Homo sapiens: one gene and its partners. The protein of the gene in region 1 purifies or fractionates together with the protein of each later gene. This does not show direct contact. Each region holds a gene or a part of one and is shown in the gene's direction. Other genes may lie near its edges. The genes, in order: PEA15, ESF1, HABP4, DCAF13, SAFB, MAP9 and DDX46.

What was found.
Region 2: the proteins of PEA15 (region 1) and ESF1 purify together in Homo sapiens (affinity purification with mass spectrometry; one large-scale study listed by BioGRID and IntAct). This does not show direct contact.
Region 3: the proteins of PEA15 (region 1) and HABP4 purify together in Homo sapiens (affinity purification with mass spectrometry; one large-scale study listed by BioGRID and IntAct). This does not show direct contact.
Region 4: the proteins of PEA15 (region 1) and DCAF13 purify together in Homo sapiens (affinity purification with mass spectrometry; one large-scale study listed by BioGRID and IntAct). This does not show direct contact.
Region 5: the proteins of PEA15 (region 1) and SAFB purify together in Homo sapiens (affinity purification with mass spectrometry; one large-scale study listed by BioGRID and IntAct). This does not show direct contact.
Region 6: the proteins of PEA15 (region 1) and MAP9 purify together in Homo sapiens (affinity purification with mass spectrometry; one large-scale study listed by BioGRID and IntAct). This does not show direct contact.
Region 7: the proteins of PEA15 (region 1) and DDX46 purify together in Homo sapiens (affinity purification with mass spectrometry; one large-scale study listed by BioGRID and IntAct). This does not show direct contact.

Annotation. Positions count from the first base shown.
Region 1 is NC_000001.11:160,211,884-160,216,517, forward strand, and holds the end of PEA15 (astrocytic phosphoprotein PEA-15), read left to right. Parts: intron 1-1,226; coding exon 1,227-1,382; intron 1,383-1,538; coding exon 1,539-1,603; 3' UTR 1,604-3,489; downstream 3,490-4,634. UniProt on the Homo sapiens protein: Blocks Ras-mediated inhibition of integrin activation and modulates the ERK MAP kinase cascade. Inhibits RPS6KA3 activities by retaining it in the cytoplasm. Inhibits both TNFRSF6- and TNFRSF1A-mediated CASP8 activity and apoptosis.
Region 2 is NC_000020.11:13,713,348-13,717,029, reverse strand, and holds the end of ESF1 (ESF1 homolog), read left to right. Parts: intron 1-1,862; coding exon 1,863-2,156; 3' UTR 2,157-2,705; downstream 2,706-3,682. UniProt on the Homo sapiens protein: May constitute a novel regulatory system for basal transcription. Negatively regulates ABT1.
Region 3 is NC_000009.12:96,459,405-96,464,038, forward strand, and holds part of HABP4 (intracellular hyaluronan-binding protein 4), read left to right. Parts: intron 1-4,634. UniProt on the Homo sapiens protein: Ribosome-binding protein that promotes ribosome hibernation, a process during which ribosomes are stabilized in an inactive state and preserved from proteasomal degradation.
Region 4 is NC_000008.11:103,421,646-103,426,279, forward strand, and holds part of DCAF13 (DDB1- and CUL4-associated factor 13), read left to right. Parts: intron 1-4,410; coding exon 4,411-4,500; intron 4,501-4,634. UniProt on the Homo sapiens protein: Part of the small subunit (SSU) processome, first precursor of the small eukaryotic ribosomal subunit.
Region 5 is NC_000019.10:5,628,984-5,633,617, forward strand, and holds part of SAFB (scaffold attachment factor B1), read left to right. Parts: intron 1-4,634. UniProt on the Homo sapiens protein: Binds to scaffold/matrix attachment region (S/MAR) DNA and forms a molecular assembly point to allow the formation of a 'transcriptosomal' complex (consisting of SR proteins and RNA polymerase II) coupling transcription and RNA processing.
Region 6 is NC_000004.12:155,369,815-155,374,448, reverse strand, and holds part of MAP9 (microtubule-associated protein 9), read left to right. Parts: intron 1-992; coding exon 993-1,313; intron 1,314-4,634. UniProt on the Homo sapiens protein: Involved in organization of the bipolar mitotic spindle. Required for bipolar spindle assembly, mitosis progression and cytokinesis. May act by stabilizing interphase microtubules.
Region 7 is NC_000005.10:134,813,976-134,818,609, forward strand, and holds part of DDX46 (probable ATP-dependent RNA helicase DDX46), read left to right. Parts: intron 1-2,454; coding exon 2,455-2,631; intron 2,632-3,520; coding exon 3,521-3,739; intron 3,740-4,634. UniProt on the Homo sapiens protein: Component of the 17S U2 SnRNP complex of the spliceosome, a large ribonucleoprotein complex that removes introns from transcribed pre-mRNAs.

The DNA of each region.
Region 1 (4,634 bases):
CCCTCATCGGTAAAAAATGTTATTCAGATACTCCTGTGCTATTATCACATATACAACAGAACATAAAAACAATCTAAAAATAGTAAAATTTTAAGTGGCAAAAATTGGGAAGAATTCTAGACAATAAAAATGGAAGAATACCTGAATGAGGGGAGAACTCGAAGTGTAATCTAACTGGTAAATAGTAATACTAATCTTTGTTAAGCATTTTTTAAAAACTGGTAAAATTTAAAACTACAAGTTCTATCATTTTCTTATCCACTTTGAGAGACTACTGCTTGGGGAGTGGGATCTATGGATTAGAGTAATCCCTCACAGCTGGAGGCTTTAGGGAAGAATTGGTGTTTAAGATGGCCCTGAAAGGTGAGTGGGATTTCTAAGGCAAGATCCAAAGGAGGGCATGCCAGGCAGAGGAACACTGTCACAGAGTATCTAGTGTGTTTGGAAATGCAATCAGTCCTGCTTGGCTTGACTAGGATGTAGGGTGTTTAGAAATGGCTGGGAAGGTAAGGTAAGACTGTGTTGTAGAGAGCCTGGGTATTGGATAGGTGAGGTGAGTGAACTCAGGGCCCTTCAGATATACTATTCTGACTGCTGTGTGGCTGGCAGGGAGAACGTATAAAGGAGGACGTGTTACAGTTAGACTGTATGGCAACAGTCAGAGGGGAGGAGCCAGGGAAGAAGGTCTAAGGGCATCTATAATCTCCTGGAATTGGCCAAGCCATGGACATCGTCCTTCTGGTGGTGTCCATACCTTCTCTCATTTAGAATAACCTTTCTCACCAGGCCCAGAATCTCTCCTGGGTTGCCTAGAGATTCCACCCTGCTGGTCCTACATGTGCTGTCAGCAAATTCTGATACTTACTTGGATGGAAAGTGGAAAAGGATGGGGGTGGGGGTGGGGTATCTGGAAGTCAAGTTGATTTTTCTTTTGTCCCCTCCCCACAACATATGGGAGCTAGTATCTAAGCTAAACCCCTCATTCTAACCACAATCTAGAAACTTCACTGACCAACTATCTGCCCTTCCTGCGAACAGTCCTCTGTATTGTTGTTTGGGTACCTTAGCTTTCTTCTCCTGGATTAGTAGCCCCTCTTCCTCCAGTGTTGTACCCTCCCATAACCAATGTCAGCAACTCAGCTTTGGTTCCAGGTCACTAGTCTGGTGGAGTAGGGGAAGCTGACCTCTACAGCCTAGCTCTGACCCTATCTCCTGCCTTCCTCCAGACAACCTCTCCTACATTGAGCACATCTTTGAGATCTCCCGCCGTCCTGACCTACTCACTATGGTGGTTGACTACAGAACCCGTGTGCTGAAGATCTCTGAGGAGGATGAGCTGGACACCAAGCTAACCCGTATCCCCAGTGCCAAGAAGTACAAAGGTAAGCGGCCACTCCTTTAACTAGCTGCACCTCTGCCTCGTCCCGTTGACTATCCTTGGAGTACTTGAGTTTTGGGAGAGTGGAGGCAGATGCCCAATGGGCCTGCCTGGCATCTCCCACACTGCTGTCCCTGGACACATACCTTTTTGCCCCCAGACATTATCCGGCAGCCCTCTGAGGAAGAGATCATCAAATTGGCTCCCCCACCGAAGAAGGCCTGAGCAAGGGGGAGGAAGAGGAGGAAGGTTGGACCTTCATCAGACCACTCCCTTCCCCCATCCTCCAGGAGAGGGGGCAAGGGCAACCCACCATCTACCCACTTACTAACCTGGTCCTAACCCCCTTACTGTGCGCGTGTGTGTGCGTGTGCGCACGCTCTGGCTGTTTGTCTATATGTCTAGCTCATCTAGTTCCTCTTCTTAAGGGGATGGGGGTCAGGGGCTAGGGGAGGGGGCTGAGTTTCCCCACTTTAGGAGGAGGTGGGGGCTATTTCTATGCAAATAGAAATCAGCACATTCCTCCTACTTCCCTTTCCTCCACTCCCCCCATATCTTTAAAGTGTGGAAGCAGAAAGGACCTGCATTTTCCTACATTGAGGAGCTGACATAGGGGTAAGGTATGGGAGAGGTAGGTGGATCCAGGGAAAAGCAGTGGGGACGGAAGGCAAAGAGACCACTCAACCCCCACCTGGAAGGGGCAAAGAAAAGCCAGAGTTCCATGTTTGTACTCCTGTGCTGGACTGTTTCCTGAGTACCAGCAGGTCCCTTTTTGTCTCTCATGGGCCTAGCATAGGTATGAGCCAGGGATCCTTTCCTGGTCCCTAAGATCAAACCCCATGGAGCAGCCAGCGTTAGATGCCCCCACCCACCTGTACTCTGGAGAGACTGTGCTGGGAACATGTACCACTGAGCCTGAGATGGGGATGAGGGCAGAGAGAGGGGAGCCCCCTCTTCCACTCAGTTGTTCCTACTCAGACTGTTGCACTCTAAACCTAGGGAGGTTGAAGAATGAGACCCTTAGGTTTTAACACGAATCCTGACACCACCATCTATAGGGTCCCAACTTGGTTATTGTAGGCAACCTTCCCTCTCTCCTTGGTGAAGAACATCCCAAGCCAGAAAGAAGTTAACTACAGTGTTTTCCTTTGCACCGATCCCCACCCCAATTCAATCCCGGAAGGGACTTACTTAGGAAACCCTTCTTTACTAGATATCCTGGCCCCCTGGGCTTGTGAACACCTCCTAGCCACATCACTACAGTACAGTGAGTGACCCCAGCCTCCTGCCTACCCCAAGATGCCCCTCCCCACCCTGACCGTGCTAACTGTGTGTACATATATATTCTACATATATGTATATTAAAACTGCACTGCCATGTCTGCCCTTTTTTGTGGTGTCTAGCATTAACTTATTGTCTAGGCCAGAGCGGGGGTGGGAGGGGAATGCCACAGTGAAGGGAGTGGCAGAATCAAATTGCTACATAGTCCAAACAAAAAAGAAGGCTTTTTCAAAAAACATTAAATTCACATGCAGTCTCAGAGACTATTTAGACAAAGTTCAAGTTAGGAGCTTTTAGGATGTGGGAGTAAAACTTTAATGGGAGGGGAGGGCTGGCTGCTGGAAGAAGGAAGAAGCCAGACTGGTTAGACAGTACTCTTAACTCCTAGCCCAGCCTAGCGTGCCCTGCCCCTCTGGCCACTGCTGCAGACACCTGCCTTAACACACACACCTCTAGGACTCCACAGTTTTGCCTTAAAGGACCTTCCCAAGTCTCCCTTTCCCTGTCTGGCTTCTCCCTTAAGAAGAGAGAGATACTTGTAGAATTGGGTGGGGGGAATGAGCATGAACTGTCCTTCCATTTGGGATATGTTACATTAGAGTGAGAGAGAGAATAAGGAGCCTTTCTTATGGAAGAAATGGGAGAAGAGAGACAGGGTTCTTTTCAGCAGAGTCTAGTAGTTTCTCTGTAAGGCAAAATAATCTAAAAAGACTAACCTGCCCACCCACTCCTTATATTGCTGTGAGATTGCCCCTATCTTGTGCTCTTCTGTCTGCAGTGTGCACGGCCTTGTTCTAACCCGGAATAAAGGTGATTGATTGTATTGCAACTAACTGATTTTAAAATTTCTGTGAGTGACCAGGATTTTGCAGGCTTTGAATCACTGGGAAGGGAGGGGGAACAATATTTATGGCCCAGAATAAGGGCTGGGAAAATACCCCAAGTGTATACCCTCACCCCACCCAATCTCCTAAGTATCACTGAGCTAAATGGAGTGTATCCTACTTCCAACAGTCTCCAATTGGAGCCCAAGCACTGGAAATACGGGTCTCCCAAAATGGACTTTCTAACACTGTATCATGTGCAGAATGAGAGGGGAAGGCTAGGTACCTACATTAGTAGGAACAAAAACCATCCATTGTGAATAAATGGACCACATACCACACAGAGCAGCAGTCGGGAGAAGAAAAGCTTTACTGGGAGAAAATACAACAAATTCCAGAGTGCATGGTTTTTAGCCCACCCTATCACCCCACCAGCAATAGGAACACAGACCACTCGATCACCACACATTCCCTACCTCAGGGAGTAAGTACAGCAGCCAACATCTGGTCTCAGAGCTGCTGGGAAAAGGGGCAGGAGGAAGAAGTATCTGGGAATACCATTCTCTCACTCTTTTCCCCTCCTTCCTGGCCTGATTTAGAAGAATCTGACTGTCCCAGGATACAGAATTCTTGGTTGGATCTTGTGGAACTGGGGGCAAAAAAATAGCAGCAAAAGCACTTAAGGGCAAGAATTCAGCTGGGACTTTCAGACTCAGTGACCAGTGATAAGACAAGTGCCCAAGCTCCAGCCACTGTAATCAGTCCTTAGATTAATGACTTATTCCTCAATCCTAAAATATCAAGAGGTGGACAAGGTTTAAGTCAAACCCAGGAAGTCTTTCCCTTCACTCTTCTATAAAGAAGGGAACTGGCATGAAGTTGGATGGCTTAATGATCAAGCAGCTAAAGGTAAGAGAGACAGAGTGAGAGAGTGTGTATGTATGTGTGTGGTGTGTGTGTACATGTCTTCTGTCACAAAGTACCACAATAGTCTGCAGTGGTGGCACCACCCTAAAGTAGTTAAGTTTTAAAGACAGGCCAGCCTCTGGTTAGAAGAGCCATCCTTGGAACCCCCTACAAGACTTAAGGAGAGGTAGGAGATCTGAGGCAGAGCTGAGAGGAATTTCCTGTTTTTCCCAACCCCTACACC
Region 2 (3,682 bases), on another chromosome or scaffold:
CTGGCTAACACGGTGAAACCCCATCTCTACTAAAAATACAAAAAATTAGCCAGGCGTGGTGGCGGGCACCTGTAGTCACAGCTACTCAGGAGGCTGAGGCAGGAGAATGGCGTGAACCCAGGAGGCGGAGCTTGCAGTGAGCCGAGATCTCGCCACTGCACTCCAGCCCAGGTGACAGAGCAAGACTCTGTCTAAAAAAAAAAAAAAAAAAAAAAAAAAAAAAAATCCAGGTATAGTGGCGCACACCTGTAGTCCCAGCTACTCAGGAGGCTGAGGTGGGAGGATCGCTTGAGTCCAGGAGGTCAAGCCTGCAGTGAGCCATGATTGTGGCACTGCACTCCAGCCTGGGCAACAGAACAAGACCCTGTCTCAAAAAAAAAAAAAAAAGAAAAAAAAAGAAAATGTCTTCAGAAAGACTGATGGTGGAGCCAAAGGCTACTGTCTTTTAATCCAGCACAGCCAGTTCATCCTAGGGTGGATGAAATCATTGTTTCTTTGGTTGAGCACCAGGTGAAATAGTTGACTTGTATTTTGGTAGCCATATTGTACCAAAAATGTGTAGTTTTTAATGTTAGAATCACATGTAGTGATCCTCAGACCAGCAAAGGTATGCTTGAATAGCAGGTTCATGTCACAGTGGGTCACACTCACTGTGTGCAGTGGCCAGCGCAGTAAGCCATGTTTTTTCAGTTGCTGTGTTTTTTGTTTCCATTACTCCTTCCTCTTTTTGTTGAGTACATATTCCTAATGGCTGCAGAGTCCCCTAAGCATGAGTTTGAGCCGTCTACCAAAAATCTACAAACAGCTGTTAGAAACTGCTTAATGACTTCCAACCATTAATGTGGAAGAACTGACCCTGAGTAAGATGGGGGAAATTTGGGAAATTTTAAATTTGTTCAAACAATGGAGGGTAGCATACAGATGGCTTCTAAGTAGCATATAGAAGGATTTGGGGGCTACTCTGTAGCTTCTGTTGTTTGAGTCAGTTTCACATATGCTCCCATTCCAGTTAGGTTTTTATTGAGTTACTTTCCTTATGAAAAGCAAAGAATGATTTGTAGTCATTCTGCCTTCATATATTAATATATGCATAAAAGTATTTTTTACAGGATTTTTTTCCTTGTTCTGGGTATCAAATCCCTTGGCCTCGTGATAACTAAGTAAAGCTACAATCTATCTCCAGGTGGACTTGTATTTCGTGTGTTTCCCTTTCTGCTGGTTACCCATCTGCCTGGCAGCCCTCAAAGGCTGGCTGCAGTTAAGGGTATATTCTTAAACATGGAACCACAAGTTTTTATAGAAAGAAGATAAATCTGGGGCTTGTGTCTGACCAGACCTTGATCTCAGATGGATTATTTGCCATAGTGGTCTTTAAATCTTTTGATCCATGGATCACCTTCAATAGTTCCTTATTTTGGCACCAAGATTAAAATTTCTTAACATGTACTCAGAGTTCAGGGCCTCCAGCAGATGTTCTGATTGGCTTATTTATGCTGGTAAGAAATTGATTTTGTGCTGTAAGCATGGGAAAGCCCTGCCTCACAAACCACTGCTACAGTCATTTTGTCTAAGTGGTCGTTGTAGTTACCGGCCATAATATGTATATGTATGGCCCACTATAATTCCCTTTGAAATACATTGTCCTTGCATGATAAGAACAGGGTGCCCCACAAGTTGTGGTCCAAAGGTAGGCCATAAAGAGCTATGGAAAAACAGTTTCCTAATGAATCAGTACAAACACTCAGGTTTGTATTTTATATAATCAACTCACCAACTTTCGAAATTTGGCCCCATTTCTGGCCTTTTGCTTTAGTAATTTTGTTTAATTAATTTATTAATTTTTTTTTTTTTTGGATTTGCAGGTAAATGTTAACGATGCACGGTTTCAGGCAATGTACACTTCCCACTTGTTCAATTTGGACCCCTCAGATCCCAATTTCAAGAAAACAAAAGCTATGGAAAAAATCCTTGAGGAGAAGGCCCGGCAAAGAGAACGGAAAGAACAAGAACTTACTCAGGCAATAAAGAAAAAAGAGAGTGAGATTGAAAAGGAATCACAAAGGAAGTCCATTGATCCTGCTTTGTCAATGTTGATTAAATCTATAAAAACCAAAACAGAGCAGTTTCAAGCAAGAAAAAAGCAAAAAGTCAAATAACTGGATGTTACTTATTTTTGAACTGAATACATCTTTTCCTAAAATGTACAAAAATAATAGGAGGGAATATTTATTGGGAACAAAGCTATCTTTCAAGAACATGAATAAAATCTTTTTCTGGACATAGTAAAATTTTTCTCCATAAATAATTGTACTTAATTGTGGATGACTGACAAATTTTTATTGTATATTCCTACAGATCAGTCATAATTAAATTACCTGCATTATAGGGTTTATAAAATTTTTATATTTTACAATGTTCAGTTCTAACTAGTGGAAAGTTACTCTAGCTTTTTAAAAGGCTGTTTACAATTCTGTGTAAAAATAGAGCAGTATCTACTCAAGTTTGTGTAAATGTTAGGGATAATTTGAAAAATATATATATTTAATACATTAATTTCTCTGGAAGCAGGAGGCATGTTTAAATAACTATTAAAATAATTTATTTTTCTAGCCATAAAGGATGGAAGTCAAGAACTTTTTGTTGTTTAGTCATGTTAAGTATAGTTTATGAAATTAACTTGTAAATAAAAGTGTAAAATATTTTCATTATTTTGTATAGCACTGATTTATTCCATTTTATGCATCTCAAAGTACTCTCTGGAAAAATATCTGAAAACCGATTTTAACTTTTTAAGAGGACAACTCCATTTAAAGGCAGTTCTAGAGTTGCATTGCTCGTAAATTGCATTTGAAATATTCATGAGCTCTCCAGTGGTTTTTCTGTTTGGTAGCAACAGAAAAGTCTTCTGTCTGTCCTTCACATTTTTGGAATACTTTAGAAGGATGGATATGCTGCTGTAGAGTTTAAGGATACCTTAATTCTTCTTAAAATTAAAACACATCTTTAAGGCCTTAACACTCTTGGATCTCATCTGGTCTAAATATTATAGACAACTGACAGTCAAATTAGATATGCTGTATAAGTAAATGTAAATAAAACCAGACTTGTAACTTGGAGCAAATTATAAATATGGTAACTTCTGAAAGACAACAGGAATTTGACCAGGTTTGTGGTTAAACTTGACATTTGGGGTATTAAAAATCAAACCTACTGACCAGGCAAGGTGGCTCTCACCTGTAATCCCAGCACTTTGGGAGGCTGAGGCAGGAGAATTGCTTGAGGCCAGGAGTTTTGAGACCAACCTGGGCAATATAGTAAGACCATAGGCTGGGTGTGGTAGCCTACGCCTGTAATCCCCCCACTTTGGGAGACTGAGGCAGGCACATCACTTGAGGTCAGGAGTTCAAGACCAGGCTGGCCAACACAGTGAGACCCCCCATCTCTACCGAAACTACAAAAAATTAGCCGGGCGTGATGGTGCATGCCTGTAGTCCCAGCTACTCAGGAGGCTGAAGCAGGAGAATCACTTGAACTTGGGAGGCAGAGGTTACAGTGAGCCGAGATTGAGCCACTGCACTCCAGCCTGGGCAACAGGAGACCCTGTCTCAAAATATATATATATACACGTCTGTGTGTGTGTGCGCGCACGCGTGCGTATAACAAGCCAAGTGTGGTGATACAT
Region 3 (4,634 bases), on another chromosome or scaffold:
GTTGCGTCGCTGCTTAGTGATGTGGCAGCATGGTGGCCACCGCACTCCACCTCAACACGGGGAGGGGTTGTGTCTTATGTTTGGCACTTGCTGCTTAAAGTCTTTGTTTAATCATTAAACCTGTTTATGTTAAACAGAAACAAGTAGTGAATCACATTTCAAGGAAAATAAAGTTAAACAAGCTAAGGAAGACTAGAATAGTGAACAGTTATATGTCAAGGGAGCCATTTTTCCAAACTCTTTCTGCTTCTTGACTGCTAATTCCATTCCATTTAGGATTCTGGCTACAAGTTTTAACCAAAAAATGTGGCTTTGTAAAACTATACTATAGAGCCTATTAAAAACAAAACAAAACAAAAGTCCAGCAGAGAGTAACTTAGCCTGGGTGGGCTGAGCAGGTGATGACTCATGCAGAACTGTTCACCTGGAAGTTACACATTCAAGACATTGAGATAGTCTATCTGCAACCATGTTGGAGGGAGAAACTTACAGAAAGCCTTAATTTTGCACCTTTTTTGGTGATTACTTCAAATCTGCTGTGTAGTAAGCACAGTCTCCTTGTTTCTGCAAAGCTTCTTGTAGCAGAGCTGCTTATTTTTGGAAGCATTTGGGTATTTATTTTCCCCTCACTTTAGGGATTCTGTGGAAATGAGGAAATTATAGTTCACTTGCACAAACCCATGTTTCCCCCCTTTTTTAGTAGCAAGACTGTGTAGTCTTTAAAAAGGATAAAATAGATCTTTATATGTGACATGAAAAAATAGCTATTAAGTGAAATAATACATATATGGAAGAGTAAGGTGGGATATGGAATTATGGAGGGGTTTTTTAATTTAAATAAGGTCAGAATTACAGAAAAGTTTTAAGAATTATACGAAGAATTTCCATCTGCCCTTCGAGACCCCCCACATACTAACTGTTTACCACATTTGCTTTATCATTCATCCCCCACCACACCACACAGCCTTTCTTTGTTATTTGAGAATAAGGTGTAGGAATGTCCCCTTACTCCTAAATACTTTAAATGCATTTCCTAAAAACATGATACAATTTTCAAAGTCATTAAAATGAATACAATACTGTTACCTAATTCTCTAAATTACGGAGTCTACAGACTTTACTCAGATTTCACCAATTGTCCCAGTGATGTCTTTTCACAAAAGAGAAAACATTTCTGCTTCAGGATCCACTCCAGGCAAATGCATTGTATTTAGTCATCTTTAATTAGGAACAGCTCCTTAGCCTTCCTTTGTCCTTATGAATTTGACATGTTGTAGAGTATGAGCCAGTTATTTTATAACATGTCCCAGATTTTGAGTTTTTCTGATGTTTCCTCGTGGAATGAGGTTACGCACTTTTGGCAGGAATGCCACAGAAGTAATGTGTTCTCAGCGCATCGCAGTACAGATATGTAGGGGATTTTCACTTTCAGGGAAATCTGAATCTTGATATCAGAAAACATTTTCTTAGTTTCTTAAAAAATACCCTCAATAAATAATACTCTTAACTAATAATAAAAACACTCTTAATAAATAAAACATATAAAGTTTTATTTGTGACAAACTCACAAGCAAAAGGAAGGAAAATAACATTTGAGCCAAGCATCCTGCTTTATAGACTTGTGATTCACTGTCTTACAACAGTCCTAGCAAGTAGACATGATGCCTGTTTCACAAGTGGGAAGCCTGAAGCCCATGAAAGTATGAATGAGGAGTTCAGTGTGGATACCAAGTTTCAGTTTGAAAACATAAAAAGTTCTGGAGAAGAATGGTGATGATAGTTGCACAACAGTGTGAATGTACTTAATGCCACAGAACTGAACACTGAAAAATGATTAAAATGGTAAATGTTATGGTATGTATATTTTACCACAATTTGCTTAAAGCTTGTTAATAATGGGGGGAGGGTAAACATCTGAGGGATTTTTTTTTTCAGAACAGGAATTGATTTTAAATGACCAGTAAACTACAGAAAGGAAGAGCCAAAATTCATCTAGACAGAGGCAGACTAATCTCCTAATAGTCTGTTCTAAGAGTTCAGTTAAGTTTATTTGGAGCCTAAGGAAAAATTCCTACTGCATTAAAAACAGTAGTTTACTCCCAGAATATGTGCACCACATGATATAGCAGATCTCGGGGGCGGAGACATGCCCGTTAATCCCAGCGCCGTTTATGACATTGCTTCCGTGGGAAAACACGTTCTCTGCCTGGGTAGAATAGAAATCCATGGCAGCTGGCTGTGACAAGACTACTACACACATTGCTGAAACTCTGGGTCTGTTTTCTCATTGAAAAATGGAGAGGGCTGAATTTAGATAATCTTTCGAGATTATAAAGATTCTATAATTCTGTCCAATAAACATGTATAGGTATTAAAGAAACTCAAGGTGACACCCTTTTTCACTATCAGATGAGCAAAGATCAAATTTTATCATATTCAAGCTTGGGGAAAGTGCTATAAGAAATGCTCTTGGCGGCACAGTGGCTCATGCCTGTAATCCCAGCACTTTGGGGAGGCTGAGGCAGGCAGATCACCTGAGGTCAGGAGTTCAAGACCAGCCTGGCCAACATAGTGAATCCCCGCCTTATTAAAAATTCAAAAATTAGTGGGGTGCGCCTGTAATCCCAGCTACTCGGGAGGCTGAGGCAGGAGAATCGCTTGAACCCAGGAGGAAGAGGTTGCAGTGAGCCGAGATCATGCCACTGCAATCTATCCTGTGTGACATAGTGAGATTCTGTCTCAAAAAAAAAAAAAAAGAATTTGTAGGTTGGGCACAGTGGCTCTCACCTGAAATCCCAACACTTTGGGAGGCAGAGGCAGGCAGATCACCTGAGCTCAGGAATTCGATTCCAGCCTGGCCAACGTGGTGAAACCACATCTCTACTAAAAATACAAAATTAGCCGGATGTGGTGGCACACGCCTGTGATCCCAGCTAGTCTGGAGGCTGAGGCAGGATAATCGCTTGAACCTGGGAAGTGGAGGTTGCAGTGAGCCAAGATTGTGCCACGTCACTCCAGCCTGTGTGACAGATGAGACTCTGTCTCTAAAAAAAAAAAAAATTGCCAGGCGTGGTGGTGCACAGCTGTGATCTCAACCACTGAGGAGGCTGAGGCATGAGAATCACTTGATCTGGGAGTCAGAGGCTGCAGTGAGCTGAGATTGCACCACTTCACTCCAGCCTGGGAGACAGAACGAGACTCTGTCTCAAAAAAAAAAAAAAGAGAGAGAGTTTACTGTTGGCTGGGCACAGTGGCTTATACCCGTAGTCCTAGCACTTTGGGAGGCCTAGGTAGGCGGATCTCTTGAGCCCAGTAATTTGAGACCAACCTGGGCGACATGGTGAAACCCGCATCTCTACAAAGGGTAGTTAGCCGAGTGTGGTGGCACATGCCTGTAGTCTCAGCTGCTTGGGGGACTGACATGGGAAGATTGTTTGAGCCTGGGAGATCAAGGCTGCAGTGAGCAGTGATTGGGCCATTGCACTCCAGCTTGGGCAACAGAGTGAGATACTGTCTGAAAAAAAAAATTACTGTTACTTTTCTTTTGTTTTAGAACTGTACTTTAGATTTCTTTTTTTGCTCTGTTTCCCAGGCTGGAGTGCAGTGGCAGGATCTCGGCTCACTGCACTCCTGGGCTCAAGTAATCCTCCCACTTCAGCCTCCTGAGTAGCTGAGATTACCAGGCATGCACCACTATGCCTGGCTAATTTTTATATTTTTTAGTAGAGATGGGGTTTTGCCATGTTGCCCAAGCTAGTCTCGAACTCCTGGGCCCAAGCGATCCAACTGCGTTGGCCTCCCAAAGTTCTGGGATTGCAGGAGTGAGCCACCACTCCTAGCCTGCTTTAGTTTTTTTATTTTTATTTTTAAGACAAGGTCTCGCTTTGTTGCCCGGGCTGGAGTGCAGTGGTGCCATCTCGGCTCACTGCAACCTCTGCCTCCTGGGTTCAAGCGATTCTCCTGCTGCAGTCCCCCAAGTAGCTGAGATTACAGGCGTCCGCCACAACGGCCGGCTAATTTTTGTATTTTTAGTAGAGATGGGGTCTCACCATATTGGCCAGGCTGGTCTCAAACTCCTCACCTCAAGTGATCTGCCCGTCTCGGCTTCCCAAAGTGCTGGGATTACAGGCGTGAGCCACCGAGCCCAGCCTGCTTTAGATATTTGCTATAGTTTAGGATCAGGTTTTGCTTTAGATATTTGCTATAGTTTAGAATCAGGTTTTGGTTACAGGAGGTGGGAGACAGAAAAGCCAACTTGGAGAATTTATTTAAGTTGTGTTTCTTATAAGAGACTGGCATGACGTTAATGATCAGTACTTCTGTATTTCTTTATTTTTTGAGTAAGGAAGATTGCGAGTTTTGTATACTTTTACCCACTATTGTATAGCGGTTTCTTAATGTAACACTTTTAGCCATAAAAGTAGATTGTAACATACCTCTACTGCTGGTGTTTGAGCTACTAATGCCACTAGGTTTCTTGATGCCAGGACCTCCATTAAATAAGTAATTTCTTGTGATTTTAAATGTTTTTAAAAGCCTTTCCAAATTAGAAAACATTTATTAAACTATTGTTACAATGGTGAAAAAGAGCTTAGAGCTTAGTGAAGGAGAGACAAGTCCTCAGAAAGAGTGCT
Region 4 (4,634 bases), on another chromosome or scaffold:
GATTTTGACTATTCTGGGTACCTCATATAAATAGAAGCATATTTTAAAGAATTATACCATTTTGTGTATGTGGAATAAGGCTTTTGGGTCTGGCTTATTTTACTTAACATAATTGTCTTCAAGGTTTATCCATGTTGTAGTACATGTCAGAATTTCCTTTCTTTTTATGGCTAAATAACATTCCATTGTATGTGTCACATTTTGTTTATCCGTTCATTCATCAATGAGCATTTGATTTGTTTCCACCTTTTGGCTATTGTGAATAGTGTTGCCGTGACCATTGGTGTACAAATACCAATTCAAGTTCATTGAAAGTCTTTTTAAACAAGGGGAACGACAAAATCTGAGCTGTGCTTTGAGTTAAGTAATTTGACAGCAGTTAGTGATCAGTTTGAAGGCCATTTTAATAGTTTGGCAGGCAATAATAAGAGGCTACCTTATTATGGAGACTGAAAACTAGAAATCAGTGGTTGATACTTTGGAGGATTGACAGGTTTGACAACTGAGAGGTGCCTGGGAAGAGGTTGGTTCCTGTTGCTGAGGAGTACCAGCAAGTTTTGAAGGGTGGCAATGGGAAGGATATGATGTGACAAACTGGACTGCTAATGGGCTGTTCGAGTGAAGATGTCTGTCATACCTTTACAGATGCAGGTCTGGAGCTCAGGAGGGAGGTCAGAGCTGAACTTGACATCATCAATATAGAACTAATCATTGAAGCCATAGTATGGCATCATTGGGAGGAAATGAGGAGGAAAATATAGAAATACAAAGATGTCAAGGAAGTAGCCTTGGGGAATGCCCACCTCTGGGAAGTGGGAAAACTCTAGGAGTAGCCAGAGCTCAAAGAATCTGTGAATGAGCATAGTGTCCTAGGAGGAAGGAATAGTCAGTTTTGTGAACTACTACAAAGAATAATGAAAAATGAAGACTGAGGAAAACATTTTAGAAATGTAGAGATGTAAAAAATAGAAAATTAAAGATTGCATAATTCTAGTCTTTCACTTCTAACACTATTAGTTTGGTGTATGTCTTTTCAAGTGTTTTGACCTACCTATACAACAGTTTTTGTATACACATGCGCTAATCAGTCAAATAGATCTTCCTTATTCTTTATTTACTGGTGACTTTTTAAAAAACAGGTTGAGCTGAGTTATAAAATGTAGGTTGCAATCCAGGTTGGCTGGGTGCAGAAGCTAGATTGCAAGAGAATAATAAAGGGAAAAGATGACTTCTGGGAAACCTGATAGCTACAATTTGAAAGATTGTCATGTGAAAAAGAAAATAGACTAATTTGTTGCTCCATAGAGAGGCACTGGAAATAGGTGTTAGTGTTAAAAGATTCGGTTTTGGTGTAAAAAAAAAAAACTTATTTGCTGTCAAAAAGCAGAATAGGCTACCTTGCAAAGCATTCAGTTACTTTTCACTAGAGGGGTGCAGATAAGCTGCCTGACCCTGCAAGCCCAGTGTTGTGCAAGGAATTGATTGGCAAGTGGGAATGGATGGCACCTAAGGCTTCTTACACTTGGTTATTCTCTTGGATATATTGATTAATAGCTCAGCCAGAGGACTTAGTGTATTTTTTTTTAATGCTTAAAATGAATAAAGGCTCATTTGCAGCATTATTCACAATACCCAGGATATGGAATCAACCTAAAGTGTCCAGCAATGGATGAATGAATTTTAAAAAAAAAAGTACACACACACACGCACACAGGAATACTATTCAGCCTTCAGAAAGAAGGAAATCCTGTCACTTGCAGCATACATGAATGAACCTGGAGGACATGATGCTAAGTTAAATAAGACAGATACCACATGATCTCAGTTGTGTGGAATCTAAAAAAGCCAAACTCTTAGAAATGGAGTAAAATGGTCATTACTAGGGGCTTTGAGGGAGGGAGATTGGGGAGATGTTGGTCAAAAGAGACAAAATTTCAAATAGATGGGATGGATGTTGTACAACACTGTGATTATAGTTAATAACAACATGCTCTCTTGACAATTGCTATGAAAGTGAATTAAATGTTCTCACCACAAAATAATAAGTATGTGAGGTAACAGATATGTTAATTAGCTTGGTTTATCCATTCCACAGTGTCTACGTGTATCAAAACACAATGTTGTACATCATAAATATATATCTTTTATTTGTAAATTAAATAAAAAACATTTTAAGAAATGAATAAAGACTGAAAATGTTTCATATTCACCACTTATTTCCCCCCACTTTATTTTTTTAAAGAGACAGAGTCTTGCTACGTTGCCCAGGCCGATGTTGAACTCCTGGGCTCAAGCCTGTCTCAGCCTCCCAAAAAGTGTTGGGATTACAGGCATGAGTCACCATGCCCACCTTATTGTTTCTCGGTTTTTCAAAAAGATTTTTTTTTTTTTGAGATGAAGTCTCCCTCTGTCGCCCAGGTTGGAGTGCAGTGGCATGATCTCTGCTCACTGCAAGCTCTGCCTCCCGGGTTCACGCCATTCTCTTGCCTCAGTCTCCCCAGTAGCTGGGACTACAGGTGCCCACCACCACTCCCGGCTAATTTTTTTATTTATTTTTATTTTTAGTAGAGACAGGGTTTCACCGTGTTAGCCATGATGGTCTCGATCTCCTGACCTAGTGATCCACCCGCCTCAGCCTCTGAAAGTGCTGGGATTACAGGCGCGAGCCGCCATGCCCAACCAAAAAGATATTTTTGAGTAATGTGTGCTTTGTCAGAGATAAGACACATGTGAAGACTACTTGCTGGTACAACTTTAAGAATGTTTTTAAAAATTTTAGTACACAGTGTTGCAAAACATAAACTTTTATTACCTAAAACTTCACTAAGATATACCAGTTTGTAATACCAACAATTCCTTCTTCAGCATAACCAGCCTGGAGATGAGATGTTCTAGCCAGGCACATATTCTTGTTCGGCTACTCATTTCTATAAAATGAGAAAACCCTTCCCAGAATTGGTGGTCCGCTGAGGTTTGTACTCAGTAGACGGCAGAACAGCTTGGTCATTTACAAGCAAATTCAGTCTTGAGCTTGCAGACACTATCAGAAACTTGATGGAGGGATAGCGTCTTCAGGAACGGGGTGCTCAGGGACACAGTTTATCCTGTATTCTGTAAGTGCTAAAATGTCTCTTTGGGTCAAGCCAGATCAGTCAAGACCTGGTACCTAGATTACATCTTAGTCTCCCAGTAGAATCAGGTTTCTAGAATTGAGTTTTAGTATAGTGCCAGTGGCTCAGATTCATAGTTGTTAATAAGATGTAGCCCTATTAAATACTTTTTGTCTATAACAAGGATGTAGTTAAGGATTCTGTTCATCGACATCCTCAACAAAAGACATCGCTGTGTAATCTTAGTACCAAAACCTTTCCTGATCACTTATCTGTTTTCATCTCATGGGCACTGTAAACTGTTTTGCAAGAAGCGTTTTCCTTTTTGAATTTGCTGTAAGAAAAGAGCTACATTCATACTCTTCCCTTAGATAAAGATATCTTTGTTAATGATTTTATCAAAAAGTGGATATAGATTGCATCTAATATATAAATGTAAGATTTTAAGTTAAAACTAGCAGTTTTGTATGTATGCAGTTATACAGTACCACATTTATGATTTTGTTTTCAACCTCAAACTACATTATATGTTCTGTTTTGTAGTCTGTTTCACCTGATAGCTTAAACATGTCTGCCAAATACCCATGTCTAAATTACCATAGTTTGTTGCTTTGCCTTGATTTGGGCTAACGTGCCAACAGTTTTGCTCACTGTTGCTTTTTTACTATTTGTGCAGCTGTCAGCACAGTGAAAAGACAAACTATGTCTTTACTAACATTATGAAAATAGTTTTGACTGTGTGGACCCTGAAAAGTTCTCAGGGTCCTCCAGAGGCCCAAAGTTCACAGTTTGAAAACCACTGACTTAGTAGTTTCTGCAGTTCATGCAGAAAAGGACTTTATCTATTTCAATATTATAACAATGCCTTCTCTCCAGTATTTTCATGTTTTTCATTTTATTTTTTACATTTAAAATTACCTGGAATTTTATTTTCACATAAGGCATCAAATTGGCTCAATTTTTTTGAATGACTAACCAGATATTATAATACCATTTTTTATAATCCATTTTTTCTCCAAGTTGAAATGCCATGTTTATCACAATATGCATGACCTAACTTTGCCCCTGTTCTTGTTTTTCTTTTGCTCTACTCATTATATTTTTAGTTTTATGTACTTTATGTATTTGTCACAAATCTTTACTAAAACAAGGTGGGATATAAATGGATCAATAAGTGTAATACTGGAATGATATGGTATGTTACCTGTTTTAAACAAGATACTTATTTGATATGTGTTGGCAAGTTTTAATTTATAACTGTTGTTCCTTACCATCATCATAATAAAACAAATATTTCTAGGTTGGTGATGACAAAACTGTGAAGCAGTGGAAAATGGATGGGCCAGGCTATGGAGACGAGGAAGAGCCATTACATACAATATTAGGAAAGGTACAAAAGTAAATTGACTAATAGCTTGCCTATTAACATTCTTTTATTTAAAATTATTTTATAGTTATAATTTCCTAAGATGGGGAAGAAGATGCAGATAAGAAACGAAAGACTTTAGGCTGTAATTGTTGACC
Region 5 (4,634 bases), on another chromosome or scaffold:
GGTAGTCGCGCAGTCATAGTTCGCTGCAGCCTTGAACTCCTGGCCTCAAGCAGTGCTTTCACCTCAGCCCCACAAAACGTTTAGATTTCAGTTGTGAGCCACTGCGCCCGGCAGGTTTTAAAATACGTGCATGGGAGTAAAAAGCAGAAGTTGTTCACAGTCGGGACAGCCCACTACTAAAAGTTAGGCATACTTCTCCAGACTGTGTGTGTATGTACAATGTTTAAAAGTAAACTTAGGCCTGGGTTACAGAGCAAGACCCTGTGTCTAGAAAAACAAAAAGTTAAATAAAAGTCAATGAGCTGGGCATGGTGGCACACACCTGTAGTCCCAGCTACTAGGGAGGCCAAGGTAGGAGGATTGCTTAAGCCCAAGAGGTCAAGGCTGCGGTGAGCCATGAGTGTGCTTCTACACTCCAGCTTGGGCACAGAGTGAGAGGGGGAAAAAAGTAAATATATAGGTATGTGCACACACCTGTATGCATATTTTTTTCATTAAAAAAACCCGTGATCTTGCTATACAAAATCTCACTGTTTTTTAACAGGCTAATAATCTTCTGTATGAATAAATACACAATTTAGCCCATCAGTCTTTTTATTACTAGACGTTTGGAGATTTTTATTTCCAATTATCACTCGGTACTTCCAACATTCAGTGTTTGCACGAACCAGAGATAAATACCTTTGTGTGGTCAAAGTAATATAATTTTTGATAACTTAGTGAAAGGAGAATTCTAGACTCCAAGGATATGGCCCTTTATTTTCACATAGCTAGTTTACAAATAGCTGTCCCGGCCAAGTTCAGTGGCTCACGCCTGTAATCCTAGCACTTTGGGAGGCTGAGGTGGGCGGATCAAAAGATCAGCCTGGCCAACATGGCAAAACCCCACGTCTACTAAAAATACAGAAATTTGCCAGGTGTGGTGGTGGGCGCCTGTAATCCAAGCTACTCAGGTGGCTAAGGCAAGAAGATAGCTTGAACCTGGGAGACTGAGGTTGCATTGAGCCAAGATAGTGCCACTGCACTCCAGCCTTGGCGACAGAGTGAGGCTGTCTCAAAAACAAAAACAAAAACAAAAAGCTGTCCCAGGTTGTACCCTACCAACAATGGGTGACGGTGCCTATTTCACTAAACTCAACATCAAACTTACCTTGTTTGCCTGTTACCTTGTTGCCTGTTATATAGAAGAAAAGTATTTCATTGTATTTATCTGCATTTTTCTGCAGGTGAGATTTTCGTTTGCATTTCTTCACAGATTATACTCTTCTGATAATTGGACATTTGTGTCGTCTGAATGGCCTTTTCATGCCCTTTGCCGATTTCTGTGCTGGGTTGTTTGTCTTATTGAGTTATAAAGACTCATATAAAATGTTTCTATTGTTTTAATCTGTCATTCAATTTAATCTGATTCGACTTGTGGTATTTTGATCACTAGGCTTCTAGATTTTATGTTACGCTTTAAAAGGACTTCTTTGCTTTTAAATTATTAAAAATATGACTGTAAGGCCAGGTGCGGTGGCACACGTCCGTAATCCCACGATGCAGGTGGATCACCTGAGGTCAGGAGTTCAACACCAGCCTGGCCAACATGGTGAAACCCTGTCTCTACTAAAAATACAAAAATTATCTGGGTGTGGTGGCAAGCGCCTGTAATCCTAGCTACTTGAGAGGCTGAGGCAGGAAAATCGCTTGAACCCGGGAAGCAGAGGTTGCAGTGAGCCGAGATCACGCCACTGCACTCCAGCCTGGGCGACGAGTGAAGCTTCGTCTCAAAAAAAAAAAAAACTATATGTATAACTCTGTTATATATAGAAAGAATAATATTTATGGTTTTATTTTTACATTTTACATTTGGAGGTTTAATTAATTTAGAATGTATTTTGCATGTGGTGTGAGGTAGGTAGGGATGAAAACATGAAACATTTAGGCTGGGCGTGGTGGCTCATGCCTGTAATCCCAGCACTTTGGGAGGCTGAGGCGGGCAGATCACCTGAGGTCAGGAGTTCGAGACCAGCCTGGCCAACATGGTGAAACCCCGTCTACTAAAAATACAAAAATTAGCTGGGCATGGTGGCGGATGCCTGTAATCCCAGCTACTCGGGAGACTGAGGCAGGAGAATCACTTGAGCCTGGGAGGCGGAGGTTGCAGTGAGCTGAGATCATGCTGCTGCACTCCAGCCTGGGCAACAGTGCAAGACTGTGTCTCAAAAAAAAAGAAAAGAAACATTTGTCATCAGAAAGATCACTTCTGCCCCTCCCAGTGCGTCTCCCCTCCCAGCCCCTGCAAAAATAAAAGTCGCTGTTGTGATTACTTCACCAGATATTAGTTTTACCCATTCTAGAACTTCATGTAAAATGGAGCCATGCAATACTAGCTCTTTTGTGTCTCATTTGTTGTTTTGTTTTGCTTCTTGTAATCAGTTTTATTCTAGAAATTTACAGTACATTTTGATATCTGATAGGGCAGGTCGGTAAGTTTTCTTGAATTATTTTCAACTACTTTATCAGTGGGTTTTATCAAGATTTTAACTGAAAATAGAGGGACTGCTGTAATGTGTGAATTCAAAATGCTTTAAAATTCCAGAAAGCATATCTCATGTAATCTCAGTTCTCCTCCTATTGCTTGGACTTGGAGAAAATGACATCCCTTTTAAACAGCACTTGGCCAAAACAGAATTGTCACTTTAACATTTTTTTTAAAAACTGCTTATACAGCAAAAGTCACATTCCACATGACGTGACTCTCACCATCTTAGCAGACTCTCAAAATAATTATCAGGGGCTGTGCGAGATGGCTCTCGTCTGTAAGCCCAACAGTTTGGGACACCGACGCGGAAGGATGACTTGAGCCCAGGAGTTGGAGAGCAGCCTGGGTGACATAGTGAGACCCCATCTCTCCAAAAAATTAGAAAAATTAGTCAGATGTGATGGCGTGCATCTGTAGTCCCAGCTACTCAGGAGACTGAGGTGGGAGGATCACGTGAGTCCAGGAATTTGAGGTTGCAGTGAACCATGATTGGGCTGTGATTGCTCTCCAACCTGGTAACAGGGCAAGACTCTGTCTCGAAAAAATAAAATAATTACCAGGAAACTAAATTTATTTGTAGTGTCATCACAAAGTACAAATTAATAGGATGTTTTATGGTGTTTGAGAATGTTTTGTAACTGGAGATGCAAAGTTGGCCTGTTTGCTTGGTTAAGTATTACCCAATCCTTTGCTGCTGGCTTGTTTTGTTCAGTTTTTGTTCATTTTGGCAATTTCATACTTAAGTTGCAAGAATAATGCAAGGAATTCCCATATACCCTTTACCCAGAGTCCCCAAATATTGCCATCTGACTACATTTGCCTTGTCCTTTTCTCTCCTTGTATGTATGTTTTTACTAGACCGCATGGTAAGTTGCAAGGCGCATATGCCCCTTTGCCCTACGTACTGCAGTAAAGTAAGGATATTACCTAACTGTAGATGTCCAGATCAGGAAATTAACATTGATACAATACTGCCACCTCGTCTTAGTCCTCATTTAGATTCAGTAGTTTGTTCCAATAATATTCTCTATAACTCAGACAAAAAATGTCCAGAGTCATGCATTGCATCAGGTTGTCATGTTTCCTTAGTTTTCTTTAATCTTGAACACTTACACTTATTTTGTAGTTTATTTTTCTATTTGAATTGTTTTGGGTTCTCCCCGCCCCATAATAAGGATCAAGTTATACGCTTGTCAGAAATACACCAGACATGTTGTATTCCTGTTTTTTGTTTTGTTTTGGTTTGAAACCGGGTCTTGCCCTGTTACCCAGGCCAGAGTGCAATGGTGCAATTGTAGGTCACTGCAACCCTGAATTGCTGTGCTCAAGCGATCCTCCCACCTTGGCCTCCCAAAGAGTTGGGATTACAGACATGAGCCACCACGCCCAGCCTATATTGTCATCAGAGTATACTATCCAGAGGCACATGCTGTCAGTTTGAGCCATTATTGGCCATGTTAGCTGACTTCAAATGCTATTGGCCAGGTTTCTCCACTGGAAAGTTACTGTCTTCCTTTTCACAGTTACATTTGTGGGGAAGATACTCTGAGACTTTGTAAATATCCTGCTCATCGTCCATTAGTTTTAGCAACCACCAGTTCCTGTCTATTCATTTATTCTGGTAGTTGCCAAATGGTGATTTTTTAATTTTGTTATTGTTTGTTTATTACTTGGTTTACTGACATAAGGAATAGCTTGCCCTTTGCCCTCATTTATCTGTGTGAACTTAGATTATTTTATTCCATAGGTTGAAAGCCTTTATGCTTATTTACTACAATGTGCAAAACGTTCCATTGGGAACCCTGTCAGACAGGCTCCCCTGTCATTTCCACATGTTCATGCCATTCTTGGGATACTTTTTTACCTTCTGGAATGGCAGGGTACGTGAGTCTCATCTTATGCTTTTCCTGCCCTTTCCCCGGAATCAGCCATTTCTTCCAGGTGCCCTGGGCCCTTTTGAGGAGAGCTATTAGAAACCAGGGTCTGCAGCCAGGCGCGGTGGCTCACGCCTGTAATCCCAGCACTTTGGGAGGCCGAGGCAGGCGGATCATGAGGTCGGGAGATCGAGACCATCCTGGCTAACACGGTGAAACCCCATCTCTACTAA
Region 6 (4,634 bases), on another chromosome or scaffold:
CTATTATAATTTGGTTTCTCTTAGCTATGTAAACATATTAACATTTTAGTTTCAGGTATAAGCATACAGAATTCTAAACTTGGTGTTTTTGTTTGTTTGTTTTTGTTTTTGAGATGGAGTCTCGCTCAGTTGCTCAAGCTGGAGTGCAGTGGTGCAATCTCGGCTCACTGCAACCTCCACCTCCCAGGTTCAAGTGATTCTCCTCCTTCAGCCTCCTGAGTAGCTGGGACTACAGGTGCCCGCCACCATGCCCGGCTAATTTTTGTATTTTTAGTAGAGATGGGGTTTCACCACATCGGCCAGGCTGGTCTCGAACTCCTGACCTTGTGATCCGCCCGCCTCAGCCTCCCAAAGTGCTGGGATTATAGGTGTGAGCCACCGCACCCGGCCTGGTGTTTTATTCTTTAAAATTTGGTGAATAATTGTAATTGATTTCTGTAAAACCAGTAATAACCACAGTTAAATCACTGCTGTATAGTTAACTTAGCATTTCTTATGATTCTTAGTAAATCTAATATTCTGGTGTGGATGGAATTGTAGTTCCAAAATTTTTATGGAAAAAATATAATTAGTAATTACTAATTAAATTCTTCCATTTACAAATGTTCTTGATTTTACATGAAGAAGTAATTTGCAAATAAAAGTTTTACAGTCCATAATCTAATTTAAATGCTACATGACTGATTGTTAGGGACCTTTGGATGGCTTTTTCCAGAGCAAACAGTGTTTGGTTGTTTGGTACCCTACAGACAACACAATAAATACATTTTGAATAAATTAATGAAATTGGAATTTTTATTTCATAAATGTTAATGAGACGTGCCTGAGTTAGCTGTGTTTTTAGAGCTGCAAGTCTATTTATAAAATACATTTGTGCCTATTCATTGTTAGAATTTTGTTTGTAGCTTTTAAGGTAAACTTTGATTAAGTTAACGTAACCTTGACAATTTTTAAAAATACTGTTGAAAACATTTTTCTTTTCCATTTTTCAGTTTCTTTAGGTGATTTTTCTGACACTTCAGCAGATGAAAATTCAGTTAATAAAAAAATGAATGACTTTCATATATCAGATGATGAAGAAAAGAATCCTTCAAAACTATTGTTTTTGAAAACCAATAAATCAAACGGTAACATAACCAAAGATGAGCCAGTGTGTGCCATCAAAAATGAAGAGGAAATGGCACCTGATGGGTGTGAAGACATTGTTGTAAAATCTTTCTCTGAATCTCAAAATAAGGATGAGGAATTTGAAAAAGACAAAATAAAAATGAAACCTAAACCCAGAATTCTTTCAATTAAAAGCACATCTTCAGGTAATTTGTTAGGATTACTGTAATTGCATTTCTTGGAAGTTTATTTTAAGATAATCAGTCCCAAAATTTTTATATGGTAGCTAGTATATATTTAAGAAAAAAAGACAGACTTAACTTCCATTTTACAGACCTGTTGTATTTTGTCTAACTTCAATTTTACAGACCTGTTGTATTTTGTCTAACTTCAATTTTACAGACCTGTTGTATTTTGTCTTGCATCTAGGCTGTTGCCTGATAGAAAGCCAAAGCACAAAGCCAAAGCACCTTTAGTCATCCATAGCATCCATAGCTGTGGATCTCCAGACACCTAGACCTGTGAGCTTCAGTTTTGTTTGTAGGTGTGGAACTGGAATGGAATGCTGTCTAATCCCTCTCACACTCCAAAGATTAGAGTTACAGCAATATTGAGACTAATCCTTCTAACAGTCTTTGCCATACCAACATTGTGCCAGAAAATTTTCTTGACATTTGTATATTTGAAGGATGAGTTATGTTATTGCTGCTGTTGTTTGTTGAAGCATCCAGGCACTCCTTAAGAGAATCTCCATTTGATCTCTGTATTGCCTATGAAAATCTACTAAGATTCAGTTTTCCAAAGGAAAGTTCCTGGTGTGATCTGGGATTACAGTTAGTTCTGCCCACAATTTTACTGAATTTTAAGCATAAAGGAACAAAGATAGAATGAAACGGAGACCAAGTCCTGTCACATACCCTGGGCCACCATTCATGAACTTGTATATGCAAGGTTAAGGATTTTTTGTTTTTCATTCTTTGTATTTTATAAAGGAATTATTAGTTGATGTTAACCTTCATAAAAATCTCCTTGCATATCATCAGTAAATACAGTGCTGGTAAATATTTCATACTTTGCATATTAGATACCAGTGGTAACGTCAGACAAAACTTTATTTCAGGCATGTATTGGGGAACTGCTCCTTTCTTCCTGACCCCACAATCTCATTAACTTTGAAATGAGCAAAGGATGTAAGCAGAGCAAAGAACACTAGAATAATATCCAGGACACTGGGGGAAAGGCCTCTGTATATTATATATGACTTCAGCAAATAAGTTAAGCTTCAGTATCCTCATGATGAGGAAGCTAAAAATAACCCTCTTTCTATTCCTGCAAAATTGTGAGAGTTTATTGAAGTGCATCTCATAAACTATAAAAAACTACAAAAATGCAAACAGATGCATAATGAAACAATTAACTTGTTAAAATGTACCTTCTAAGTATAGTGAGTGAAATCAATGCTGGAGAGAAGAGGAACATAATTGAACTTCGTTATTAAGAAAATGCGAGCATATATAGCAACTAAAAATTTGTCTGAGACAGGTGGATGTATATAATTAGAAGTTTATGGTAGATAATCAGGAAAGCAATAATCCACCTATTTCATACCTTAAAAAAAAAAAAAACCTGTGGTGGGTTACAATGAATAAGAAAATACTGTATTTTAACCACAAGGTGGCATCAGGATCCTAAATGCTCTACTTATATATGCAATGTTATATTCAGTACGTGTAATATAAAAATAATTACCTAAATAGGTAATTGTATACATTGATTACCAAAAAAAGCGCTTTTCTTAAAGTATAGGCATTTTTTTTTCTTTTTGGGAACTTGACAGTACTTCTGGAAGTGGAATTTTTGTAGAAAATATATTAAAGTTGTCATTCTCAGGTTCTTCAGGTTGAAAAGTAAAAATTGAGGCTAGTGTTCCTAAGATAATATCTGGCATATATAATAAGTATTTAAATGAATAAATTAATATATGAATGATTTATCTTTGAAAGAGGGAATATGGTTCATGAGTTTATCCTCTAAATTCTTTGACTTTTTTTTTTTCTGTACAGGTTTGGAACTCAATGTTTTTAATGTGGTGAGATATTGCTGAGTAGCAAGTAATGCTTTATGAAACTATTAGAGCTTGAAGGTTTTCTCTGTCCTTGCTTGTCTTTTGTAAAAAGTATAATAACCAGACTTTATAGTCACTACTGAAGTGACAGTTGCTCTATAAAGTGAAAGTATTTTTCACAGGATATGTTTTTATTTTAATACTAACATGACTGAAATCATGAACTTTGGAGTCAGGATGCTTCTCCTTTAATCTGAGATCTGCAGCCTGCTAGAGTTTGTGACTTTGGGCATGAGACCTCTTTGTTCTCATTTTATTCATCTTTAAAAACGGGATAATAGTTGCCTGCCTCTAGGAGTTTGAGGCAATTAAATGAGTTCACATATTTGAAGTGCTTAGAATAGTACTGGCATAAATTTAGCACTCTATAAATGTTCTGATTATTCATTTTATTATTTAGCGTTTGTTTATAAACATGCTCAGCAGGTATAAAGTATCAGTCATGCGGGATGCGTAAGTTCTAGAGATCTGCTGTACATTGTGCCTATAGTTAACAGTACTGTCTTTTGCACTGAATGTATTAAGAAGGTAGATCTCATGTTTGTTCTTACCACAATAATAAAAAAAATTGACTCAACACCTTCTTTCAGGCATTATATAATATTCTGCTTAAACTGAGGCTCAAAAGACATGCAAGCATTTGTCAGGAGGAGAAGCAGGAAGTGGATATTCTAGGCAGGGGGATCAGCTTAGGTAAAGGTATGGTAGCAGGAGGGATTGGAGGGATTGTGGTATGTGTGCATGACAACTGTTAGCCCAGCATTTCAGAAACACAGATGACAAAATGGCTGTAGATAAGGCAGTGAAGGACAAAACCATAAAATCCGTTTTATGTTGTTTAAAGGCAGTTAAGCTTTTATTCTGTAGGATTGGATCATGGGGAGCCATTGAATAATTTTGTAGAAAGGAGTGATGTGATCTGATTTGGATTTTGTAAATATCATGGAAGCAGTGATCTAGGAAAGAGTGGATAAGGACCCGACAGCAGGGATGTAGAAAGTGGAATAAATGAGATATTTGGCAATTAGAATTGATAGGATATATTGATACTCTGGATTTAGGGGATAATAGAGGGAGGAATCTAGAGCCCTTGGATTTGGGGTTGAACATTTGGCTGGAGTTTAGGATGTAGCTAAAATTGTCAGCTACTTATAATAATACCAATTTGGTATGGTTGTGGAATCTTCTGGCAGAATCCATAAGCCCATTTTTAGGTAAATGGGAGGAAGATGTTAATTAGACCAATTTTGAAGTTGAGAAAAATGCATTTGTAGAACAATAGAAACATAAATATGTATAGCAGGTAAAATGCAGGCAAAAAATATATACATGGAAAGTCTTCCCATTGTTTCGAATACTGGATGCAAATCAGCATTTGATTCTTGATTTAAACTTAGAAGTA
Region 7 (4,634 bases), on another chromosome or scaffold:
AAAGACTATTAAATAATTTGTAGCCATGTTTTAAAAACATCTGTCACTTTTTGACATTATGGTAGTTTCCTCTTTTCTGTGGTTTTAGTTGCCATAGGTTAACCACAGTCTGAAACTATTACAGTATTTTGAGACCACATTCATATAACTTTTATTACAGTATATTGCTATAATTGTCCTATTTTATTGTTGTTAATCTCTTAACTGTACCTAATTTATAAATTAAACTTTATCATAGGTATGTATGTATAGGAAAAAACAGTGTATGTCGGTGCGGTACTATCTCTGTTTTTAGGCATTCACTGGGGTTCTTGGAATGTATTCCATGTGTAAAGGGAAAACTGCAGTATTTTTAACTGTTTTTTAAAATCTTGTGATAAAATACGGTGATTGTTTCTTCGGGTGTTAAAGTAATATATAATTTTATGAAAAATGTAAACAGTACTTAACACGAATAAAATCAAAAGTAAGGTTAGCTCTACCAGCTAGCATTGTATACTTCCCCCTTTCCTGATTTTATGAATTTGTTCAGATTGTAATACCATGAATGCTATTTAATTTAAAACGGTTTTACTCAGGTAAATGTTGAGTTTTAAAACTAGTTGATAACTGACCCCCTGTTGGTGTTTTCTTGGGGTTTTGTTTTGTTTTGTTTTTATGAGACAGGATCTCACTCCATCAACCAGGCTGGAGTAAAGTGGCGTGATCTTGGCTCACTGTAGCCTCGACCTCCTGGGCTCAGGTGATTCCCCACCTCAGCCTTCTGAATATCTGGGACTACAGGCATGTGCCACCATGCCTGGGTAACTTTTATATTTTTTGTAGAGACAAGGTTTCGCCATGTTGCCCAGGCTGGTCTTGAACTCCTGGGCTCAAGTAATCCTCCTGCCTTGAACTCTCAAAATGCTGGGATTATAGGCAGGAGCCACTGTGCGTGGCCATAACTAAAACCCTTTAATAGGTAATAAATGTTTTAAGAAGAATCTAAGGCTGGGTGTGGTGGCTCATGGCCTGTAATCCCAACACTTTGGAAGGCCATGGTGGGAGGATAGCTTGAGCCCAGGAGTTCAAGACCCTCCTAGACAACACAGTGAGACCCCATCTCTATAAAAAGGTTTTTAAAAATTAGCTGGACGTGCTAGTGCACGCTGTGGTCCTAGCTACTTGGGAGGCCGAGATATGAGGAACCCTTGAGCCTGGGAGTTAAAGGCGACCCTGTCTCAAAAAAATACAAAAGCTAAACGGACTGTTTTTATTGTAGTAAAAGAGCTTTGTAAATTAACCAATTAATTTTTAAGCCCTAAATAAGCTTTTCTGTGCATTTGAGATCTAGAAGATACAGCTTTATTAATCTGATCTAAATTTCTGAAGGGGGCTTGTATTTCTGTAATCAGTGATATCAGTAGTCACTGTTGGGCAAAGGGCATTTTTTAAAAGAAATGCACATAGCAGGCTGGCGGTGGTGGCTCATGCCTGTAATCCCAGTGCTTTGGGAGGCCAAGGTGGGCGGATCACGAGGTCAGGAGATGAGACCATCCTGCCTAACACGGTGAAACCCCATCTCAACTAAAAATACAAAAAATTAGCCAGGTGTGGTGGCGGGCACCTGTAGTCCCAGCTACTCAGGAGGCTGAGGCAGAAGAATGGCGTGAACCTGGGAGGCGGATCTTGCAGTGAGCTGAGATGGCGCCATTGCACTCCAGCCTGGGAGACAGAGCGAGACTCTGTCTCAAAAAAAAAAAAAAAAAAAAAAAAAAGAAATGCACCTAGCAGTAGGGCTCATGTGACTCCTGTCAAAGCAAAGCATTCATCATTGCGCTTGCCTTGATGGGGAAACAACCTGCATTTGTTTCCTTTCTTGATTCAAAGGAATAAGGGAATAAGCCTTTTCTGGTTCAGTTACCCAGTTTTTAAGGCAAATCCAATTGGATTTTATGGGTTGGGAAGAGTTTTGAGAGCTTTACCTTAGGAACATGTTATATCACTCCCCCTGAGAATTATTGACTATATTTTTAGTAGGCCACTGACCTTGAGTTATAGTCCTTCTTCCAGCCTGTTTCATTGCAGTATAATTTGGTCTCAAGGCCTGAGCCCTGGGGTAAGTCAGCTGCATCCTATTGGCTATTCTGTCTTGAAAGCACATGTTTCCTCATTTATTGAACAGGGATGAAGTTTCTGGTCCTCTCAGGAGTCTGATGACGTGGTTCATGCAATGTTGTTTCTCTGTTTTCTATTTTTCTCCCTACCATAGACAACTGATTTTTTAAATGAAATGTGACTTTTAACAAATAGGTGGTATATTTTCCCATGGATCTGTGTAGTAGGATTTGTGTAAATATAACTATCTGATTCCAGCCTTTTGGTGGAAACATTCCTTATTTATTTCTGTAGAATAACTTAATTTGGTATTTCTAATTCAGTTTTTTACTAGTCCTTTTTTTCCTTTTGATCTAGATTGATGAGCAAATTGAAAGCATGTTTAATTCAAAGAAGAGAGTAAAGGATATGGCTGCTCCTGGAACATCAAGTGTTCCTGCTCCAACTGCAGGAAATGCTGAGAAATTAGAAATTGCTAAGAGATTGGCTCTTAGAATCAATGCCCAGAAGAATTTGGGCATCGAGTCTCAGGTATTAAGTAATTTGTTCCAAGTCTCAGTCAATACTTTTAAGAAGTTCTTTGATTTTACTTTTCAGGAATTATGTTGAACACAAGTAAACAAGTTGTCCTAGACATTGAGTTTGTGAGAATTTAACATTCTCAATACAGAATTTTTTGATAATTGCATTTGGATGATTTCTCAGTGCTATTGACTGAGGACTTTGGGCCTATTCTGGAATTTCTAACTGTTAGCCACTGGTAGTTTTATAGGGTAGTATTCTGATGAGTCTTAACAAAATCTTAAAGATGTATTAATAATTCTCTTTTTCTTTCTTTATCTGCTTTTATTGGGCACACAACTCCCTGGATATACAAACACCCAGTTACATGACTCAAATCAATATGGTCTTAAACAGTGGAGAAATGTGATTTTTAAATATTTCACGTTATCTTTTTCTTGGAAGCTTACTTGTTATTTTGAAGCTTTTGAGGCAGTCATTAACTATAACGTTTGTAATGTTGGGTTGGGTCATAGAGATGAAGGAGCTCAGTGATGGTAGTAGTACAAACATTCAAATTCGGAGGAGACTCCTAGGAATTAGAGTATGCAAATGATTTTCGAAATATTTACTGTGTCTGACATCAAGAGTTAGCTAATTATCAACTACATCTCTATGATCTAGTAGAATATTTAATAGAGTTGAATGTTCTCCAGTTTTCTTATCCACTAGGAGGTACATTAAACTACATTATAAATATATATTGCTAAATCACACATATCAATGAGACTATGCATTAGAAAGGTTTATTTATTAAACTTGCATACAAAGTTAGTAGCTTTTCAGAGAATAATTTGTGGTGTGGTCCCTACTCTTGTCTCTGCCCTCATTTGAGATTTAACTAAGTCTTCTTTAACTACAGGATGTGATGCAGCAGGCCACCAATGCAATTCTTAGGGGTGGCACCATTCTGGCTCCCACTGTTTCTGCAAAAACCATTGCAGAACAACTTGCTGAAAAGATCAATGCCAAGCTCAATTATGTGCCGTTAGAGAAACAAGAAGAAGAGAGACAGGATGGTGGACAGAATGAATCTTTTAAGAGATATGAAGAAGAATTAGAGATCAATGACTTCCCACAGGCAAGTAACAGGTTTAAACCTTTTTTTATTGTGAAGTAGCAACTCTTCTTTGGAGGAAAAATCTCATCTTTAAAACCCATGAACATTTTAATAGCTCCTTCACTCTTTACCTAAATGGAGGATATAACAATAGAAATTTGATTTTTATGAGTATGTTCAAGGTACATTAGGATCTAAATGAACTTATGATGCAGGTATGTATTAATAATGATCTTTGTTTTCTTTGCTTGTTTGTTGTTTTTTTTTTTTTTTGAGACAGACTTTTGCTCTTATCGCCTAGGCTGGGGTACAATGGTGCGATCTCGACTCACCTCAACCTCCGCCTCCCGGGTTCAAGCGATTCTCCTCCCTCAGCCTCGCGAGTAGCTGGGATTACAGGCATGCGCCACCATGCCCAGCTTATTTTTGTATTTTTAGTATTTTTAGTAGAGACAGGGCTTCACCATGTTGTTCAGTCTGGTCTCGAACTCCCGACCTCAGGTCATCTGCCCGCCTCGGCCTCCCAAAGTGCTGGGATTACAGGCATGCACCACCAAGCCTGGCTAATTTTTCTATTTTTAGTAGAGACGGGGTTTCTCCATGTTGGTCAGGCTGGTCTCGAACTCCCAACCTCAGGTGATCCGCCCACCTTAGCCTCCCAAAGTGCTGGAATTACAGGTGTGAGCCATCACGCCCGGCCAATAATGATCTCAATATTGACCATAGGGCCCGGTGAGGTGGCTCACGCCTGGAATCCCAGCACTTTGGGAGACTAAGGTGGGTGAATCACCTGAGGTCGGGAGGTCGAGACCAGCCTGACCAACATGGTGAAACCCCGTCTCTACTAAAAATACAAAAATAAGCTGGGCATGGTGGCGCATGCCTGTAATCCCAGCTACTCGGGAGGCTGAGGGAG